4 linked regions of the Homo sapiens genome follow. The protein of the gene in region 3 interacts with the protein of the main gene of each other region in a pairwise test. Each region holds a gene or a part of one and is shown on either strand. Other genes may lie near its edges.

The links. The genes of interacting proteins can lie anywhere in the genome.
Region 1: the proteins of ENTREP1 (region 3) and TAX1BP1 interact in a two-hybrid assay, tested with the Homo sapiens proteins (one large-scale study listed by BioGRID).
Region 2: the proteins of ENTREP1 (region 3) and USP13 interact in a two-hybrid assay, tested with the Homo sapiens proteins (one large-scale study listed by IntAct).
Region 4: the proteins of ENTREP1 (region 3) and WWP1 interact in binary tests that used the Homo sapiens proteins (3 or more experiments, as listed by UniProt).

Annotation. Positions count from the first base shown.
Region 1 is NC_000007.14:27,826,593-27,831,387, forward strand, and holds the end of TAX1BP1 (tax1-binding protein 1), read left to right. Parts: intron 1-1,145; coding exon 1,146-1,228; intron 1,229-2,035; coding exon 2,036-2,237; 3' UTR 2,238-3,175; downstream 3,176-4,795.
Region 2 is NC_000003.12:179,760,471-179,765,659, reverse strand, and holds part of USP13 (ubiquitin carboxyl-terminal hydrolase 13), read right to left. Parts: intron 4,549-5,189; coding exon 4,405-4,548; intron 1,659-4,404; coding exon 1,492-1,658; intron 1-1,491. UniProt on the Homo sapiens protein: Deubiquitinase that mediates deubiquitination of target proteins such as BECN1, MITF, SKP2 and USP10 and is involved in various processes such as autophagy, endoplasmic reticulum-associated degradation (ERAD), cell cycle progression or DNA damage response.
Region 3 is NC_000009.12:69,369,307-69,374,495, forward strand, and holds part of ENTREP1 (endosomal transmembrane epsin interactor 1), read left to right. Parts: intron 1-2,192; coding exon 2,193-2,303; intron 2,304-5,189. UniProt on the Homo sapiens protein: Functions as an activator of the E3 ubiquitin protein ligase ITCH in the ubiquitination of the CXCL12-activated CXCR4 receptor. Thereby, triggers CXCR4 endocytosis and desensitization, negatively regulating the CXCL12/CXCR4 signaling pathway.
Region 4 is NC_000008.11:86,432,478-86,437,666, reverse strand, and holds part of WWP1 (NEDD4-like E3 ubiquitin-protein ligase WWP1), read right to left. Parts: intron 2,216-5,189; coding exon 2,140-2,215; coding exon of another isoform or gene 2,131-2,139; exon of another isoform or gene 2,129-2,130; intron 2,035-2,128; coding exon 1,963-2,034; intron 1-1,962. UniProt on the Homo sapiens protein: E3 ubiquitin-protein ligase which accepts ubiquitin from an E2 ubiquitin-conjugating enzyme in the form of a thioester and then directly transfers the ubiquitin to targeted substrates.

The DNA of each region.
Region 1 (4,795 bases), on a different chromosome or scaffold from region 3:
AGAGATAAAAAGGAAATAGGCAATTTAGATGATGTGCCTGGTTTCAGTGTTAAATGAGCCTGTGTGTTTGGCTGTTGATGTAGCACGTACAGATCTCTAAAAACTGCTGGGATGCAGCCATGGGAATCCAAATCAGTGTTTTCTTTGTGATGAAAACTAGATGCACAAATTTTTAGAAGTCTCACTTGACAACCTCTGAAATATTTAACTTTGGATTTTGTTCCTCTATAGCAGAGTTTTGAGGCTTGTAGTTTAGTGCATTGCTTTGCTTTAACACGTGTTAATCCAGTTGGACTTGCTTCCCCAAGAATATGCATATACAAACTCACACATACTTTATTAGTTTTTCATTATGATTTCTGTATATCATGCAATGGATGTATCTTGTCAGAGAGACTGTCTTTCTTGTAATTAAGCTTACAGTTATTAAATGAGAACGTTTGGGACAATAATGCAGTCTGACAGTATTGAAAGTAGGGCCAGGCACAGCGGCTCACGCCTGAAATCCCGGCACTTTGAGAGACCAAGGAGGACGGATCACTTGAGGCCAGGAGTTTGAGATCAGCCTGGCTAACATGGTGAAACCCTGTCTCTACTAAAAAATACAAAAATTAGCTGGGCATGGTGGTGCACACCTATAATCCCAGCTACTCAGGAGGCTGAGGCATAAGAATTGCTTGAACCCAGGAGGCAGGGGTTGCAGTCAGCCGAGATCGCGCCACTGCACTCCAGCCTGGGTGACAGAGTGATGACTCCATCTCAAAAAAAAAAAAAGCAAAAAACTGGTCACCCAGTCTGCAGAATGATAAAGTCAGTAAAAGTTACCTACGTATATAGGTTTGAAAAGGTCTACTGTTCTCAGCTTCATTTACACATACAGGTATGGTAAATGGTATGTGTAAATGGTATGTCTCTATTCCTCTGAATACTGCTTTTTATTTCAAGAACACCACAGTGTTAGTTTATAGTGAAATACTCTGCAAAGTTTCAAACATGTTTATTTGAAAGTCTAATTAAATGATAGCAGAGAGAAAATTTCCTGAAGTGTAATCTTCTTTTATACTGTCAGTATGTGCTTGATTGAATTAAGGAATTTATATTTGGTTTTACTTTTCTTAAAAGTTCCAAAATTATTTTTCCCCTAGGAAGATGAGAATGTGCCTACTGCTCCTGATCCTCCAAGTCAACATTTACGTGGGCATGGGACAGGCTTTTGCTTTGATTCCAGGTAGTTTTCTTCTTTACTTTGTAGAATTTGGGTTATATCGGCCAGTGGTTCTCAAAGGTGGTCCTTGGGAACTCATTAGAAATGCACATGTGTAGGGCCTGGCCTAGCTGAACCAGAAACACCAGGCGTAGGCCCAGCAATATGTGTTTTAACATGTCCTCCGATTTAGGGAGTTTTGTCAGAAAACATTTTTAACTTGCAGTATTTAAAAGAATATTTACTGTTCCTAAAATGTCATTCAAATGCATGTATTGTCTGTTGTTTGGGGATGGGAACTAGTTTTGCAAAAAACACCTAATGTTGTATAATAATGCACCAATGATCTTGCTGGTTAAAAATACAGTATTTTTGGCCAAAAACAAAAACATGTCCTCCGACTGATTCTGATGCATACAAGCATTTGAGAACCAGTGCCATAAAAACTTTGCTATTAAACCAAATGCACTGGTGGGAAGTTATGAGTTGTATTTATCCTTACAGTCTTACAAAAGGCATTTTCTGTTAAACGTGGAAGAATTCTTGGTACTAATTTCACGTAATTGTGATTGGATTTGGGAGGTTTTAAGGGGGAAAAACGGTTTTGTTAATCTAATTGTAAAATTGAATTTAGAGGCTCTATAAATGGGTTACACAATTGTCTACAGCAAGCATTTAGAAGCAGAGAAATGTTTCTGGAGTAAAGACTTTTAAGGTAGGTTGTTTAGTATGAATATCAGCTAACTAGATAAATGGAACCTTGTCATATATGGACAAGTTGTTGTTCTACATTTATTAGAAACATGTAATTCTTTCATTTTTCTCTTTAAGCTTTGATGTTCACAAGAAGTGTCCCCTCTGTGAGTTAATGTTTCCTCCTAACTATGATCAGAGCAAATTTGAAGAACATGTTGAAAGTCACTGGAAGGTGTGCCCGATGTGCAGCGAGCAGTTCCCTCCTGACTATGACCAGCAGGTGTTTGAAAGGCATGTGCAGACCCATTTTGATCAGAATGTTCTAAATTTTGACTAGTTACTTTTTATTATGAGTTAATATAGTTTAGCAGTAAAAAAAAAAAAAAAAACCACACCTAAAATAGACCACTGAGGAGACCATAGAGCGGATGCTTTCATGCACCCTTTACTGCACTTTCTGACCAGGAGCTACTTTGAGTTTGGTGTTACTAGGATCAGGGTCAGTCTTTGGCTTATCAATAAATTTTAATCTCTGTTAATCTTACCTGCTTTAAAAAAAAGTTCTTGTGTGTTCGTATCTTTATTTATTCCCTAGTTTGCAGAACTGTCTGAATAAAGGATACAAGGATTATTTCAATGTTACTGCACTGAAAAACGTGTATGTATTAGTGTGCTAGATTATTTAGCAGAATATTCACAAGTTTCTGTTGACCTTGTTGATTGAGCATGACTACTAAATATTATGTAATAAAAAGCATTTGTCATAACAGTCTTATGAAGTAGTTCTTCGAATATAGAAAGTTCTATAATTTAGCCCATGAAATGATAGGTTTTTAATTTTCAGAAATGGAGCTGCATGTAGAATGAGATCACATGCTTTTATATGTGAAATATTGGTTTTAGCAATTAACAGAAGGCATACTTTGCTAATTTTATGGCAAAATTTTAGAATAACCTGAATGATTATTTTTAAACTATCTTGAAGTTGTATGTATATATCTAATGGGAAAATGGAACAAGAGATGTCAGTATAATTGTTTTCCTATTAAATGATCTCATAACAGGGGTGTTTGTGGCATAAAAATCATAGAATATATATCAGTATCTTTTTTACATTTTCCTGATGAGAATATAAATTTGAAATATTCTCAGTAAGTGATTAAAAGTACAATACATAAACCCAAATCAAAGTAATGTGTTTCTTCAGTTATGTCTGTGCTGTATAGAACTGTCACTAACATTAAAGAAAGAGGACACATTTTTCAAGATCTGTAATTTCATTGTTGTCAAATTTATTTGTGAAAGTTTTTCATTAATCTAGCATCTTGAACATCTTTTTTTGGTTTGGGCCTTTAAAATACTTCTGAATTGTATTCCCTTTCCCTTTTATAATGTGCGTGTGAATAATTTAAAGCACCAACTTTTGATTTTGCCGCTTTTGTAGTTATCATCAAAATAGTTTACATTTGTTCTGAGCAAACTAGCTATTGAAGATGTTAACCTAATATTTAGACTTGGTGGCATTTTGAGTTGCTATATGTGAACTGCAGCATATCATGTCGTCACTTGTATTTGTTTGTGGAAGCAGAGTTTGTATATTGTTAGAATCCTTTAAAAAGTTTTTTGAGTCTAGGGCAAACCAGTATGAGGCATTCATATGCCAGCTGTTAGGACACAGCAGTCCTAGGAAGCAATAGCTTTGGAGACTTTCAGCTTCCAGATAGGTTATATACTTAGGTAAAATATGTTCAACAATGGGAGCATTTTTGTTGGAGTTAATAATTATGGACCATGTTAATCCAAAAGTATCCTTGGAATATTTATTATAGTAGTAGACACTGTTCATCTTACTAGCCTAGAACTTATTTTAAAATAGTTTAAGTAAGTAAGTCCAAGCTTAATTTGTTATTGACAGAAAAGTAATACAGCCTAATCTAATCTAAGCAAAAATGTAAGGGAATAAAGTCTACATGCATCAACTGAACAGCCTTAGAATGAGGAACTGAATGGATATATTAATTTCCATGGTAAACTTGATACTGGTTTTCATAATGGACACTAAGGAAAATAAAGAGCCATATTTATTTTTGGGTCAGAGGCAGTTTATTTTAAATGTGATTTCATTTACATTTATAAGCAGCTTTTCTTGACAGGAATTTTGATTAAATTGCCTTCAGTTCTAAAACAAACCTCTGTTGCTTTCAGACTTAATGTGCTCTGTCCCCAACAAAACATATGAAAATATAATTTAAAGCACAGTTTTCACAGACACAGTACAATACATTCACTATACACAGTATAACAAAATATTCCCATCCTTACCTGTTTAGTAATACTGTCACAATGAATAAGTAAATAGAAATTGGAATTTATCTTTGAAAGCATTGAAAGAAATTTAACATGCACAATGACTATTTTATGACTGTTTAGCTGTTGAACTACTGATCCAGCCTGCAGTTTCTTGCACTAGAAAGAGCGAAGCTAAATAATAATTGCTGGCCTAAAAAATTTTTTTTGGTCAATTGTAGGTAGATATGAAATAGCCAAGTGGGGCCTTCTTATGCACCAACTAGTTGCGTCTCATGTCTGGATCACCCTTTTAAACATAGGATAACACTGTATATTCAGGACCAAGACCATACTTCAGATCTGAGGAAATTTTTAGAGGGCAGTGTTTTTATAAATACTTTGAATCCCTCATAATGAAGGATTTTAGAACTTATGAATATAGAGGTTTACTCATCTAACAAACAGAACTGTCATCCTTTCAAAATGTCTGAAAATTGAGGAGGGACCCCTGCTTCCCAGTTATATGTGATGTAAGACTTTTCATCAAATGGGAACATGGGAAGAAACTTTATAAGCAATTTGAGTTTGTTTTATGGGCAGTTAGCT
Region 2 (5,189 bases), on a different chromosome or scaffold from region 3:
CATGCAGCCTCAGGCCTCACTATGTCCTGACCATTTCAACTAGATGTCAGGCAGATAGGGAAGGAGGTCTGAATTAATTAGTCCTAAGTGCCACTGAGTAAGAAGCTCTGACTCCGCATGACAGGCACGTTCAGTTGGCATGGCATTCTGCAAGTCTCCCAGCTGACATCTGTAATTGGATTCACTGGAAAAGAGTTCTAAGCAGCAGATCAGCATTCCAAAGTTTATATCAATGTTAGCTCAGCTTTTCTGCAGGAAGATGCTGATAATAATAGGTGTGGAATAACCAAGGGTATGGCATTTGTTTAAGTGCAGCTCTTTCTAAAGCCACTTTAATTGCACACACTACCTTCTCTACCAACTGTATTTTCTGCAGATAACTGAACAATAGAGGGATGCCAGTGTGGTATTATGTTAGAGCCTTCTCTCCTGGAATGTTGGTAAAATGTTTGAATTCCAGTAAAGACAAGATTAATATCTTGATTAATGACAACAACACTGATTAGTTAAGTATAATTGTTTAAACTGAACTCCATGTACTTCAAACTAATTGACCATAAAAATATTTCCATCTTTCTCAGCTTGTGATATTTCTGGCAGGTTAAAGAATTTGTATAGATATAAAACCTCTAATGAAACAGTCAGGCAAATAAAATGAGTGGAGCACAAGAAAGTACCCCAAGTAAAACAAACTCTGGTTGAGATATTTTAATCATCTTAAAGGGAGACAGGTTGTCCTAGCCACATCCTCATGAGACAATCAAGAGCCACTGTGACCTCAGCAACGGATCCTAGCAGGCACCCCATCAGGATAGGCAAGAAGTAATTGAGAGCAGATATCTACTCAAAAATGGATTATGGTGTGACCAGGAAGGATGGGTTTTGTTTTGTTTTTTAAGTACCTTCCCTCAAGATTAAACAGATATCAGCACTGCAGAAGGGAATTGTCTACCCTGTAGTTTCAGAGTCCCTTGTTTCTTGGTATCAAGAAGTTCATGGCTACCAGAAGAACCTTCTCTTTCTGCAGAGAGAAACAGCAGCAGAGAATTCCAAGGAGCCATTCAGTTTTCTATGAGGACTTTTAAGAGACATTTACCCAAGGTCTTGGTATCAGAAAAGCATTCTATCTCCTAAAGGACTTCTTACTGAACATGGAATTTCATGCATCCCTCTTTCCTCTAGGGCCACAAGCAGCCTCCAAGTCAAATTTCTGACCCCCTGTTAACAAACATTCAAGATGATATCAAGTTTCTTTCAGTTTGCTCATATTACCCCAGATTTATTTATCTCATTCGCTGTGTGAAAATCATTCATTTTAGCTTTATATTTATAATATGCAAATAAATCTTTATGGGCTATGATGAGATTCACAGTTAGATGAATCAAACATGAATCAAAATGATCAAAGTACATTGGAAAGTCTCAACTGCTACAGAAATAAATTCACACACACACACACACACACACACACACACAGTCTCTCATGCTCACCGTTGCTCGTAGTGCCTGAATAGCCTGATTTCGCTGAAATCCCATGGAGGTGATGATAGCTACGATTTCCTCTGGAGGTTGGTTATCCAGTCCAGAAGCACCAAAAACAGAGGCTCCAGCAGAAGCTGCCCCTCCATAACCAGGCATGGTCAGCGGCTCAGCAAAATCTGAGAAAAATAACCACACCCAAGTCTTTTCCTTTTTTTTTTTTTTTTTTTGTCCTGAAACAACACTAACAAGGAAAAACATGATTCTACAAAGTTATAATAATCAAGACAGTCTGGGCCAGGCGCAGTGGCTCATGCCTGTAATCCCAGCACTTTGGGAGGCCAAGGCGAGTGGATCGCCTGAGGTCAGGAGTTCGTGGCCAGCCTGGCCAACATGGCAAAATCCTGTCTCTACTAAAAATACAAAAATTAGCAGGGCATGGTGGTGCACACCTGTAATCCAGCTACTTGGGAGGCTGAGGCACAAGAATCGCTTGAACCCAAGAGGCGGAGGTTGCAGTGAGCTGAGATTGCACCACTGCACTCCAGCCTGGGCAAGAGAGCAAGGCTCTGTCTCAAAAAAAAAGACAGTCTGGTACTGGTATATAGGCAGACATATGGATCGATTAAATAGAATTGAGATTCCAGAAATAAAACCATATACCTGTGGTTAACTGATTTTCAACAAGACCATTCAGTGGGGAAAGGACATTATTTTCAACAAATGATGCTGGGACAACTGGATATCCACATACAAAAGAATAAAGTCAGACCCTCACCTCACATCATACACAAAATTAACTCAAAATGGCTCATTGACCTAAATATAGGAGCTAAAACTATAATAATCTTAGAAGAAAACACAGGAGTAAGTCTTTGCCATTGGATTAGGCAATGGTTTCTTATTTACAACACAAAAAGCACAAGTGATAAAAGAAAAAAAAGATAAATTGGACATCATCAAAATTAAAAATGTTTGTGCTTCAAAGGATACCATCAAGAAAGTGAAAAAACACCAGAATGGGGGGGAAAACACAAATCATATATCTCATAGAAACTCGTATCTGGAATTTGTAAAGAACTCTTAGAACTCAATAATAAAAGGATAACTTCATTAGAAATGGGCAAAGAATTTGAATAGACATATCTCCAAATAAGATATACAGTCAATAAACATACGAAAAGTTGTTCAACATCATTAGTCATTAGGAAAATGCAAACCAAAACCACAAGATACCACTTCATACCCACTGGGATGGGTATGATAAAAAAGATAATAATAAGGGTTAGTGATGATATGGAGAAATTGGAACTCACATTCATTACTGGTGGAAATGTAAAATGGTTCAGCCACTGTGTAAAACAGTTTGGTCGTTCCTCAAAATTAAATATAGAGTTACCATATGACATGGCAATTCCACTCAAGAGAAGTAAAAATAAATGTCCATCCACACAAAAACTTGTAAAAAATGTTTATAGCAGCATTGTTCATAAAAGCCAAAAAATGTAAATAACCCAAATGTCCATGAACTGATAAAGATTAATAAAATATAGTATACCCATAAAATAGACTATTATTATTGTTATTATTATTATTATTTTAGATGGAGTCTCACTCTGTTGCCCAGGCTGGAGGGCAGTGGCGTGATCTCAGCTCACTGCAACCTCCGTCTCCTGGGCTCAAGCAATTCTCCTGCCTCAGTCTCCCAAGTAGCTGAGACTCCAGGTGCCCGCCACCATGCCCAGACAATTTTTGCATTTTTAATAGAGATGGGGTTTCACCATGTTGGCCAGGCTGGTCTTGAACTCTTGACCTCAAATGATCCTCCTGCCTTGGCCTTCCAAAGTGCTGGGATTACAGGCGTAAGCCACCAAACCCGACCCAACAGACTATTATTTTACCGTAAAAAGGAATGAAGTACTGACACATGCTACAACATAGATGAATCTTGAAAGCACTATGCTAAGTGATAGAAACCAAACACAAACGACCTTTTATTATATGACTCCATTTATATGAAATGTCCAAAACAGGCAAATCCCTTGATCCAGAAAACAGATTCGTGGTTGCCAGGGGCTGGGGTGAGCAGGAAAATGGGGAGTGACTGCTATTATGTATGAGATTTCTTTTGAAGGGTACAAAATGTTCTAAAATTTGATAGTGGTAATGGTTACACAACTGTGAATTTATGAAAAACCATTGAAATGTACACTTTAAACAGATGAATATATGCATTATAGCTTAATAAAGTAGATAAAAGAAAAAGCTAACTAAACATCCTCCATTTCTTCATGCCCATGTTTCCATTTCAAATTTTCATCATCGCTTAGTTAGAAGTATATCCCGTATCTTTCTATTGGTCTTTTTGCCACTGACTTATACACTTTAAAGGGATGAATTATATCTCAATAAAGCTGTTTGGGGTTTTTTTTGTTGTTTTTTTGTTTGTTTGTTTTTTTGAGACAGAGTCTCGCTCTGTCACTCAGGCCAGAGTGCAGTGGTGCAATCTTGGCTCACTGCAGCCTCCGCCTCCTGCGTTCAAGCGATTCTCCTGCCTCAGCCTCCTGAGTAGCTGGGACTACAGGTACGCACCACCATGCCCAGCTAATTTTTGTATCTTTAGTAGAGATGGGGTTTCACTATGTTGGCCAGGATGGTCTTCATCTCTTGACTTCGTGATCCGCCTGCCTTGGCCTCCCAAAGTGCTGGGATTACAGGCATGAGCCCCCACGCCTGGCCTAAAGCTGCTGTTTTTAAAAAAAAAAAGAAGAAGAAAAAGACTGGCTTTCTCCTCCACTGCAGGAGATTAGGAACTATAAAGTCATTTTCTAGGGATACATCCACAGGGACCTTGGAAGGACCAGGACTCAGCATCACTGAGGGTCACATCAGACTCCAAAGCCATTCCATTTTCTCGCCACCTACCTGGCTCTTCCATGTGAACAATGATCCAGTTGAAGGCCACCTCGGCGCCCATATTTCCAGTGAAGTACACAGCCTTGCGACATGCTTCCAGCGGGAAACCCATCTCGGCCAGCTGCATCACTGATGACTCATCGATGTCTGATGCTACAGAGCACAACAGGATATTCTAGTGTGAAAGAGGAAACTGTCGCTTCTTGTCTTAGCTACTCTCCACTCTCCTATCCACATGCTACCCAAAGAAAGTGCTATTCTGTTGGGTGTAGATAATGGTTTTACTTTGTTTAGTTTTGTTTTAAGCCACACAAATATTAAAGCTATTTGGGCTAAGTTTATATCTTTGACCCACATAGGAACCAGGTTAATTACCTGGACAATGCAAGCAATGAAAAACGATTCTCTAATTTCATATGGGGAGATTTAGTGTATTCCCAGAACGATTTCAGAGCATTCTCAAGACCTCTATGACAGCCTCTCCTATGACTGAAACTTGAACAGAAAGCTCTATCTACAGGCCTAAAAGCCTGTTCCTTAAACCTCACAGAAAGTTACTGCAGGCCTATAGATACATCTGGCAATCACAGGAAGCAAGCAGCTCTGGAAAACGGAGAGTGCAAATGTTAAGTATAGAAGGAAAAAGTTCGTTTTTTAATTATACAAGCTTAAAACATTAAGAGGCCAGGCGTGGTGGCTCACGCCTGTAATCCCAGCACTTTGGGAGGCCGAGGCGGGCGGATTATGAGGTCAGGAGATCGAGACCATCCTGGCTAACACGGTGAAACCCCGTC
Region 3 (5,189 bases):
CTTTATAGTAGAATGATTTATAATCCTTTGGGTATATACCCAGTAATGGGATTGCTGGGTCAAATGGAATTTCTGGTTCTAGATCCTTGAGGAATCACCACACTGTCTTCCACAATGATTAAACTAATTTACACTCCCACCAACAGTGTAAAAGTGTTCCTATTTCTCTACATCCTCTCCAGCATTTGTTGTTTCCTGACTTTTTAATGATTGCCATTCTAACTGGCATGAGATGGTATCTCATTGTGTTTTTGATTTGCATTTCTCTAATGACCAGAGATGATGAGCTTTTTTTTTTTTTATCATATGACACACAGTTTTCTAAAGTGGTTGTGCCACCTTATACTTGCACAAGCAGTGTCTGAGAGTCCAAGTGTTCCTCATCCTCACCAGCACTTGGTTTTGTCAGTCTTTTACATTTTAACCATTCTAGTTGGTGTGAAGTGGTATCTCATTGTGGTTTTTACTTTGCACTTGTGACAACTAATTATTTGAAGACCTTTACATGTGCTTATTGGCTATTCTTATATTTTTTATGTGTCTGTATGAAATGTCTATTTAAGTCTTTTGCCCCAATTTTTAATTGGGCTGCTTGTCTCTTTATTATTGATTTGAGGAGTTACTTGTATATTCTGGACACAAGTTGTTGTTTGTTCAATATATGAGTGAAAATATTTTCTACCAGTCTGTAGCTTGCCTACTATTGATTTTCCTAACTGTGTCCTTCAGTGGGCTGGCTTTAAGATTTTAGTGAAGAGATTTTGGGTTCAGTGTTAGGAGTAATGGGCCCTCACCCATTTTATAGTTGATAATGTTAATTTTTATTGGCGTACTGATGGGCATTATAACCACACTTTTTTTTCAAGGCATTGTATATTATCGTAAAAGAAAATTTCCAAGGGAAAACTCGAGACTTTTCCATAGTAACAGTGATTGTGTTATTGGGTTTAAGGATTACAGATATATTAGATCTCTTTGAGTAGCAACTGCTAGTGTGTAATAGAAGCCCATGTGGGAAGATCAAGTCCTGTCCTTTGCCAATTATGTATTCTCCTTTTCCAAGAAGCTGTGGCATAATCATAAATGATACAGTGCAAGAGGGGACATATTCTATATGCTGCCCAAGTCAAGTCCAATAGACACTGGGGAATCCAGCCTGGGAAACAGTAACAACAGCAGCTTCCATTAGTATTTTCCCCAAGATCTGATGACAGGCTGCATCCAAATTAACAATAAAAGGAAAGAAGCCAAACTTCTCTTGGAGAGAAGAAGGAATTCCCCCTAGGTAAAGTGGCATCATGTGATATTAAACATTGACTCATAAAATGGGTCTCGGGAAATGCTTTCAAGCTTGACTTGGAATAACAATAGTTAAAGAACAGGGTTTCTCCCTTAGAGTTCATATGTGAACTTGTTTACCAGCCAACTCTGACATATCAGCTACTTGAATTGATGCTTTGTTCTAACGCTGATAATTATTGCCTCTAATCTTTTATATTTGCTTTTATATTTGCAATAAGATTTTGATTTTCTTAATAATCATGGCTCTCAAGTTGAAAAGCCTGCATAATCTCTAACTTGTACTAAGTAAATACTGGCTTCTCAGTTGACTACTATCAATTTTTTAATTATTTGGAGTAATATTTGTAATAATTAACTTTAGAGAAAAGCACATGGAAAATCTTTGTGTGCATATTCTTTAGTACCTAAAGTGTTCAGAACTGAAAAAAAGACCCATTTTTATGTCCATTTACATACTGTGATTTCTGGATAGTAAAGGCTCTGAGCTCCTTCATGTCCCTGTGTTTCACTTATATTCCAGAGTTCTGTATTTGTTTATTTGCTGCTGATCCCACAAAACTAAAGGAAAAAAAATAAGAGTGGCTCAAGGAGGAAATAGCTAGGGCTTAGTGTAATGTGTGGGTGGAAGATAAGGGAGTAAGAATTATTTTCAAAGAGAGAAAAATAAGGACTTGAGGTTATTGAGAAGACTTAAGAGTCAGTGGCATCCCTCAGCACAATTTTAAGAAGTCTAAAATGTGAAAAAAAGTTTGTACATTGAAAACACGGTTCTGATCTTTTTTTAAAAAAATGTTCTCTTGGAAGGGAATATGAGTTTTTAAAATCAGGTAAAACTCTGTCTGAATTTAGCTGTTATCTTTTACTAACTGTCCATTCTCTTGCCATTTCAGGTAAACCTCTTTGTGCTGCTCTCTGTGGTTTGTGTCCTCTTAAATCTAGCTGGATTTATCCTAGGCTGCCAAGGGGCCCAGTTTGTGTCCAGCGTGCCCAGGTGTGATCTGGTAAGCAGTCCTAAAACATCACTGTGCATCTAGGCAGACCCTGGCTTGTCAGGTGTTCCTGGCGAGACTTGCAACATTCAGCATCAGGCAACTGTCCTGAAGTGAAACCTGAAATGGGTAAAGGGAAGTGGGAAAACAAAACAAAGAGCTGCCTGCTGATTATTTCACCCAAGTTGTCGATTACTTTTTCCAAAGCAGGGACCAGCCAGCAAAACACTGGAACCATAGTGATATAATGCATCATTAGTTAGTGAATGGATGGATCAGATGTCCACAATCAATCAGTCTCTGACTGTCCTCATCTAAAAAGAAATAAAATGGATATTGCCAGAATACAGGTCAACAGTCTTTTATCTGAAACCTTTGGAGGCCAGGTGTGTGTCAGCATTTAGAGTTTTTCCAGTTTTAGAAGATTAAATATTTTGCATATACTATTTATTATGTAGCATGCCAGTGGAGTCTGGGACAGCAGGCTGTTATCATGACTTCTGGTTTTCAGAGCTTTTTGGATTTCAGCATTGTGAGTAAGAGGTTGTGGACTTGTACCATCTCTGAACTTAAAAGAAAATAAATTTTATTGTGGTAAAATACACATAGCATGAAATTTACCATCTTAACCATTTTTAAGTCTACAGTTCAGTAGAGGTAAGTATATTCACATTGTTGACAACCAATCTCTAGAACTCTTTTCATATTGTAAAACTGAAAGTCTATGCATATTGAACAGCAACAGCTCCCCATCCTCCAGCCCCTGGCAATCACCATTTCACATTCCGTTTCTATGAATTTGAGTATCCTAGGTACCTCATACAAGTAGGATAATATGCTGTTTGTCTTTTTGTGACTGGATTATTTCACTTAGCATCATCTCCTCAAGGTTCATCATGTTGTAGCATGTGTTAGAATTCCCTTCCTTTTTAAGACTATATAATATTCCATTGTATATACATGATACCTTTTGTTTCTCCATTTATCTGTGATGGATATTTAGGTTGGCCCCCACTCTTGGTTATTGTGAATAACATTGCAACGAACATGGGCCTGCAAACATGTCTCTGAGATCCTGGTTTTAATTCTTTTGGATATATAACCAGAAGTGATCATTTGGTAATTCTATTTTAAATTTTTTGAGGAAACTTTGTATGGTTTTTCATAGCAACTGCACCATTTAATATTTCCATCAACAGTGCACACGGGTTCCAATTTCTGCACATCTTCACTGACACTTGTTATTTTCTGCTTTTTTTTTTTAAAGTGGCCATTCTAATGGGTATAAGGTGATACCTCATTTGGTTTTGATTTGCATTTTCCTTATGATTAGTGATGTTGATAGTCTCTTCATATGCCTGCTGGCTATTTGTATGTCTTCATTAAAGGAAGAATGTCTATACAAGTCTTTTGCACATTTTAAAATTGAGTTATTTTTTTTTTTGTTATTGAGTTATAGAAGTTCTTTATATATTCTGTATATCAGAATATATATACCACAAAACCAACACTGTGATTATTTCTGATGTTATAATTATAAAAGTTTGGGCAAGCCATGAAAAGTATAAGGCAGAACTTAAATATCATTTGAATTCCCACTATCCCTGGATAACAATTTGGCCATGTGTTAAGCATCTCTTTATGCACAAAAACAGACATAATCAACAGGATCATGTTGTAAGTGTTGTTTTCCTTTGGGGAAATTACTGACAAATGAAACCTTTTTGGGCAAGGGGTTGCTCTTCTCTTCTCTTTCCCACTCTGCCCATACCTGTCACCCCAAATCCTTAGTAACAGGCTGGGGAATTATATTTCATAATGTTTTCATGGTCATGTAATCTTACATAAATATGTATGGAGTGGGGTCGTTCATGATTTTTTTTTAAATGAGGTATATTGTATGTACTTCCCTGCATCCTGTTTTTATCACTTAAAGATGTATCACTTAGAGATAGATTAAATACAGACTAACACCCTTAATTTCTTTTACCAAGTTAGTTCCTTATTTTGTTATTGCCTGTTGTGGCTTGGGTTTTGACCAGTAGACACAGTGCTGCCATTAATATCATTCTGTATATCCTCAGGGAGATTTTAGTCCTAAGCGGAGTAGGTTCCCAGGACAAGGAATTGTTCTCAGCAGTATCTTTTCTCCTGCTTATCTCATTTATTATTACAAATTCAACCATTTTATTGTTCTATCCATCGCTTTTAAATTGGGGTAGAAGTTACAGTGAAAAACACAAATCTTAAGTGTGCAGTTCATTATAAGTTTTGACCAATGTATACATTCATTTTGACAAATGTATACACTCATGTTATACTCCAAACAATTTCTATACTCCAAACAAAATATTGTTTGTTGTACTCCAAACAATATTTCTGTCACCCTAAAAAGTTCTTTAGTGTCTCTTTTCAGGCAGTCTCTACTCTCTCATAGGCAACCACTGTTCCTGTTTCTTTCACCATGGGTTAGTTTTGCATGTCCTTGAACTTCATGTAGATGGAGTCACACGGTTTGAAAGTTTTTGTGTCTGACTTATTTTGCCCAGTGTAATGTTGTTGAAATTCATCCATATTTTTATATTGTATCTGTTGTTTGTTCCTTTTTTCAGGACACTATTTCATTTTATAAAAATACCAGAATTTTTTTGTTTTTTTGTTCTCTTGTTGATGGACAGTTAGGTTGTTTCCAGTTTGGGGGTATTATGAACAAAGCTGCTGTGAGCATTATTGTTTTGGGGAGGCAGTTTTCATTTCTCTTGAGTGAATACCTAGGCACGGAGCTGCTGGATGATGCGGTGCTAAAGAGTTTTCCAAAGTGGTTGGGGAAGTGAGTATTTTTAATTTAAAATGGATAGTCAGTTCCTTCATTAAAGGGCTTAAACTCACCAGTGACTG
Region 4 (5,189 bases), on a different chromosome or scaffold from region 3:
GGCTTTTCAACTGTGCAAGGGGTCAGCACCCCTAGCCCCTGTGTTGTTTAAGGGTCAACTATACTCTTTCCTCCTTCTAGTATTAAATGGATAGTTCTATTTTGGGTTAATGACAAGACAGGAAGAGTTTGACACAAAAGGCTTTTAAGGTTAAAAATATTATCTCCCCTACTGGTTTCCCCAAACTGTACCAAAATCTTCCAACAGGTAAATTTTTCTGACTAGCAGTACTTAGAGGCAAAAGACTTTGTTCTGCATCCTGTTTATACCACACATTCCATTTCTCAGTAGGAAAGGAACTCAGCTATAATGAGCAATTATTTATACAATGATGAATTTATTCACAGGCTAGTATAACTTAAAAACAATACGTATACCAAATTTTCATAATCTTTAATAGCTTACATCAAGGTTACTAGTAAGTAGGCTTTACTTTGGATAGAAATAAATTACATTCCACACATATGTCAGGACCAGAGCCAAGACTGGCAAGTCTGGGTTGGAGCACAGCTCACCAGCATGCCTCCTTGGAGGCAGTCGTGGGCTCAGTGCTATACATCAAATAGACCATGATTCTTCCCAAGACAGGGTAAAAAGCAAAATAAAGTCTACCATGAATTCAGATGTACATTTACTAAAATCAATCCAGAGTTTAGAAAAAGTTGACCTATTTACACTTAGTTTGCTAAGAATTTATTAACTCAAAAAAAAAAAATCAACTTGATAATAGTTTAAGTATCATGCCCAAAGTCCAATCGTAAAATTAAGCTATGGTTTGAAATTCTCTTGGGGCTCAGAGTATCATTACTCCATTTTGGCTTGTACAAAGTATAAATAAAAGTCCCTGTATGCCTGAGTACACAGCATAATTTGGTTCATCATTATAATACTAGGGGGGGAATAAGACGTCTCATTATGAAAAATTCTCCACTTCATTGGGCAAAAACTGACAATACAGTATTTGGATTATTTATCCTTAAATATTCTGCAGATGACTCATGAAAGGAAGAAATACTGCATTCATTTATTTGTTCATCAAATATTTATTGAATACCCTCTATGTGCAAAGGCACTATTCTACGTACTAGGCAGAACAGCAGTAAACCAATAGTCCCTGCTCTCATGGAGCTCACATTCTAGTAAGGAAGACAAAATACACTATGTTGGGTGGTTATGAAAAAGAATAAAGCACCATAAATGGCTGGAATGTGACTGTGAGGGAGAAGAGAAGGACTGCCATCTTAAAATAGTAGGCTCAGAGAAGGTCTCTCTGAGATCACATTTAAACAGAAACATAAAGGTGAAAATAAAGTTATTAAAGGAATTCTCAAATGGAATACAGTATCTACCAATTTAATTTTAATTTGATAGCATTATCAAAACTTTGAGGTAATAAATTCTTAGCCAAGTATTGTGTCAAAACAAGAATCAACTTGTTCCAAAAGCTGTTTAAGCTTTATTTTAGTAAATACACATCTAAATTCATGATATGTCTCTCAGTCTCAGTACCTTTACCTATAACATGGAGATACAATAAGTGCTATCTCAAAGGGATGCTGTGAGGACGAATGAAATAAAATGAGAAATGTAAGATGCCGGTGTTTTGCAAATGATAATCACTCAGTATATGGGAAGGTTTAGTGTAACTATGATTAAAATGGGCACTCAGGCCAGATGCAGTGGCTCAAGCCTGTAATCCCAGCATTTTACGAGGCCGAGGTGGGTAGATCGTTCGAGCCCAGAGGTTGAGACCAACCTGGGCAACATGGCGAAATTCCATCTCTATTTAAGAAAACAGAACAAAACAAAACAAAACAAAGGCACTCAACAAGTGGTGGTGGCAGTCATTATTATTATAGCTGTGTTCTGGGTGGTTTAAAAATCTCTAAAACCCTGACTTTCTTTAGATGCACAGAATACAATGAGACAAATGGTGTTTTATTCTGCTAAAATCCTCCTTACCTGTTGGAAGGAATCTTCAAACAATGTCTGCCGGGACACATTGATCTTTACATGACTAGGTAGTGCATTAGACTAAAAACAAAAATAATATCATAATATCATCTGAGTTATAGTATATGTATTGTATAAAGAGAAGACTAAATTATTGAGTATAAGATTTATTTACCACTATAGTACCTGGCACAAATAACGGAAGTGAGCAAGCTTCCACCTAAAGCCGCGTTCATAAGCAATTTGTGGACCACCTTTAGTTCTAAAGAAAAACAAAAATAAACCAAATTAACTCATAATAAAGTTGAATATTTAGTATTCAGTATAAAATCAGAGTGTACTAAAGTCCAACAAAATACCACAGGAAGATTTCTGCTGGGAGAGAAGGGTATACATACATGGTGGGCCAAAAGAAGCTCAAGTAATGGGGACTATTACAGCAACAGGACACACATATACACAAAGAAGGACATTGTATTTATGGCTGGATCTTTTGTTAGTGAGTTAAATGAAATATCAAAGTCTACTACAGACTATTTCAAAGAAAATCTTCGATAATCCTTAAATCTAAGGAGGACAGAGGCTCCAGACAGAAGAGACGTGGAAGGAAATTCTACCACATCCTAAGCCTAACCTAAAACCCAAACAAATATTCCTGGAGATAATAAGCAAAGCAAAATCAAATTCCTAGAAACAACATTGTCATCCAGATCACACGGTTCACGTGGTCAGTGAGAGAAAAGGCAGAGTTGGTGGCACGGCACCTAGGAATACAGGTTTTACAATATGGTTTGACTCACAGTGACAGAGCCTGGATCTCTTGCCTATTGATTGAGGGCCTGACAGGCACAAAGAACTTTCATAATGTTAAGGAACACTTTGGAACAGATGAAAAATGTTCTCTTGTGTTGTCAGGTTCAAGTGAATTCACTTACTCAAAAAGCATTTACTGAATGCATAGCTGGTACCTGGCTTTCTTCTAGACAGTGACAGCATTACTTATTAATAGGTAAAAATGCCTGTTTTGTGGAGCTTATATACTAGTGAAGGAGATAAGACAAAAAAATATAATAAATAAGTAAAGTACAAATGTCTTATCACTCCTGACCTAGAACAATAAAACAATAAAAAAGGCATTGTTAAAAGGACAAAGTATAAGGAGTGATATGAGAAGCATTTTGTGATTTTCAAAAGGGTAAAAGGAGTAGAGCTCACAGACAAAGTGACATTTGAGCAAAAACATGAAGGAGAGGGCAAAAGCCATATGGAGTTTCGGGAAAAGAGCATACCAGGCAGACGGAATAAAGGCTAAGACCCAAGGTGGAAGCTGAAGGTGTTGAAGGCACAGCTAGCGTCCAATGAAGCTAGAACACGGTGAATGAGGAGGAGCGAAAACCAAGAGGAGGTTGAAGAGATAAGAGGGGTCAGATCCTGTAAGGCCATTTAGGCTGTTGTAAAGTGTGCTTTTTACTCTTATTGAGATGGAAACCACTGAAGGGTTTTGTGCAAATAAATGACTTTTAATTAAATTTTGTTTTGGAAATTCAGTCTCTGTGCTGTATGGAGAGTAACAACATTGTACAAGGTGTGGGAAGAAAGCAGAGAGAGGACTCTGCTACCAAGCCAGGCAACAGATAATGGTAGCTTGGACCAAAATGGTGGCAATGGGGGTGGTGAGGCATAGCTGGATTCTAGATATGTTTTGAAGTTGAGGTAACTAGAATTCTTGATGGACTGTTTGTAAGGTAGGAGAGATAGAGGAGTTGTGGATGATTCTACATTTTTTTTTTTTCCTAAGATGGAGTTTCGCTCTTGTTGCCTAGGCTGGAGTGCAATGGTGCAATCTCGGCTCACTGCAACCTCTGCCTCCTGGGTTCAAGCGATTCTCCTGCCTCAGCCTCCTGAGTAGCTGGGATTACAGGCACACGCCATCACGCCCAGCTAATTTTACCATGTTGGCCAGGCTGGTCTCGAACTCCTGACCTCAGGTGATCTGCCCGCCTCGGCCTCCCAAACTGCTGGGATTATAGGCGTGAGCCACCATAACAAGGTGATTTCAAAATTTTTGACCCAAGCACCTGCTAGAGTGGAGTTATCAACTGTGACAGGGAATATCACAGGTAGAGCTGGGTTTTTGTTGTTGTTGTTATAATTTTTTTTTTTTTAGAGACTAGCTCTTGCTATGTTGCCCAGGCTGGTCTCAAACTCCTGGGCTCAAGTGATCTACCCGCCTCAACCTCCCAGAGTGCTGGGATTATAGGTGTGTGCCACCATGCCTGGCCAGAGAGCAGGTTTTACAGGACCTACCAAGAAGGAGTTACAAGTGGAGATGTCAATAAGCAGCTGAATATAGAAAGCAAAATTTCAAGTGAGAAGTCTGAGCTAAATTTGTGAGTCATTAGCAGGCACATGTTTTAAAAGCATAATACTGAGTAAGATGCATCAAGAGAATGAATGTAGTTAACAAAAAAAAAAAAAAAAAAAGAGGCTTAGGAAAAAAAGGAGGACTCGACAAAATAAAGATAGAAGAACAGAAACGCAGAGGGAAATCAAGAAAGTATGGCTCACAGCACTACTTTTGCCAGGAGAGAGAAATGTATTGTGTCAAATGTTCCTGGTAAGTCAAATCAGGCAGGACTGCAAACCAACGCCTGGATTAACAATGTGAAGATCATTGGTGCCCTTGCAAATTCAGTGTCAGGGGAACTTCCTTGGAGTTGGTTTAAAGGAGAAACTATGAACAGCAATACAGAGACAACCATGCAAGTAGCTTTCCTGTAAAGGGGAGCAATAAAAATGAACTGTGGGCTGGGTGTGATGGCTCACGCCTGTAATCCCAGCACTTTGGGAGGCCAAAGCAGGTGGATCGCCTGAGGTCAGGAGTCCGAGACCAGCCTGGCCAACATGGCGAAACCCCATCTCTACTGAAAATACAAAAATTAGCTGGGTGTGGTGGCGGGTGCCTGTAATCCCAGCTACTCAGGGGGCTGAGGCAGGAGAATCGCTTGAACCCAGGAGGTGGAGGTTGCAGTGAGCTGACATCGCATCATTGCACTCCAGCCTGGGCAACAGGAGCGAAAGTCCGTCTCAAAAAAAAAACAAAAAAATGAACTGCGATTGAACACATTGGTAAAGGGAAGAGTTGTAATTTCTTTTTTTTTTTGCTTTTTTTTTATATCTAGGAGAAATAACAGCTGATAAGAATAATTTTGTAGAGAAATAAAACCTGATAATGC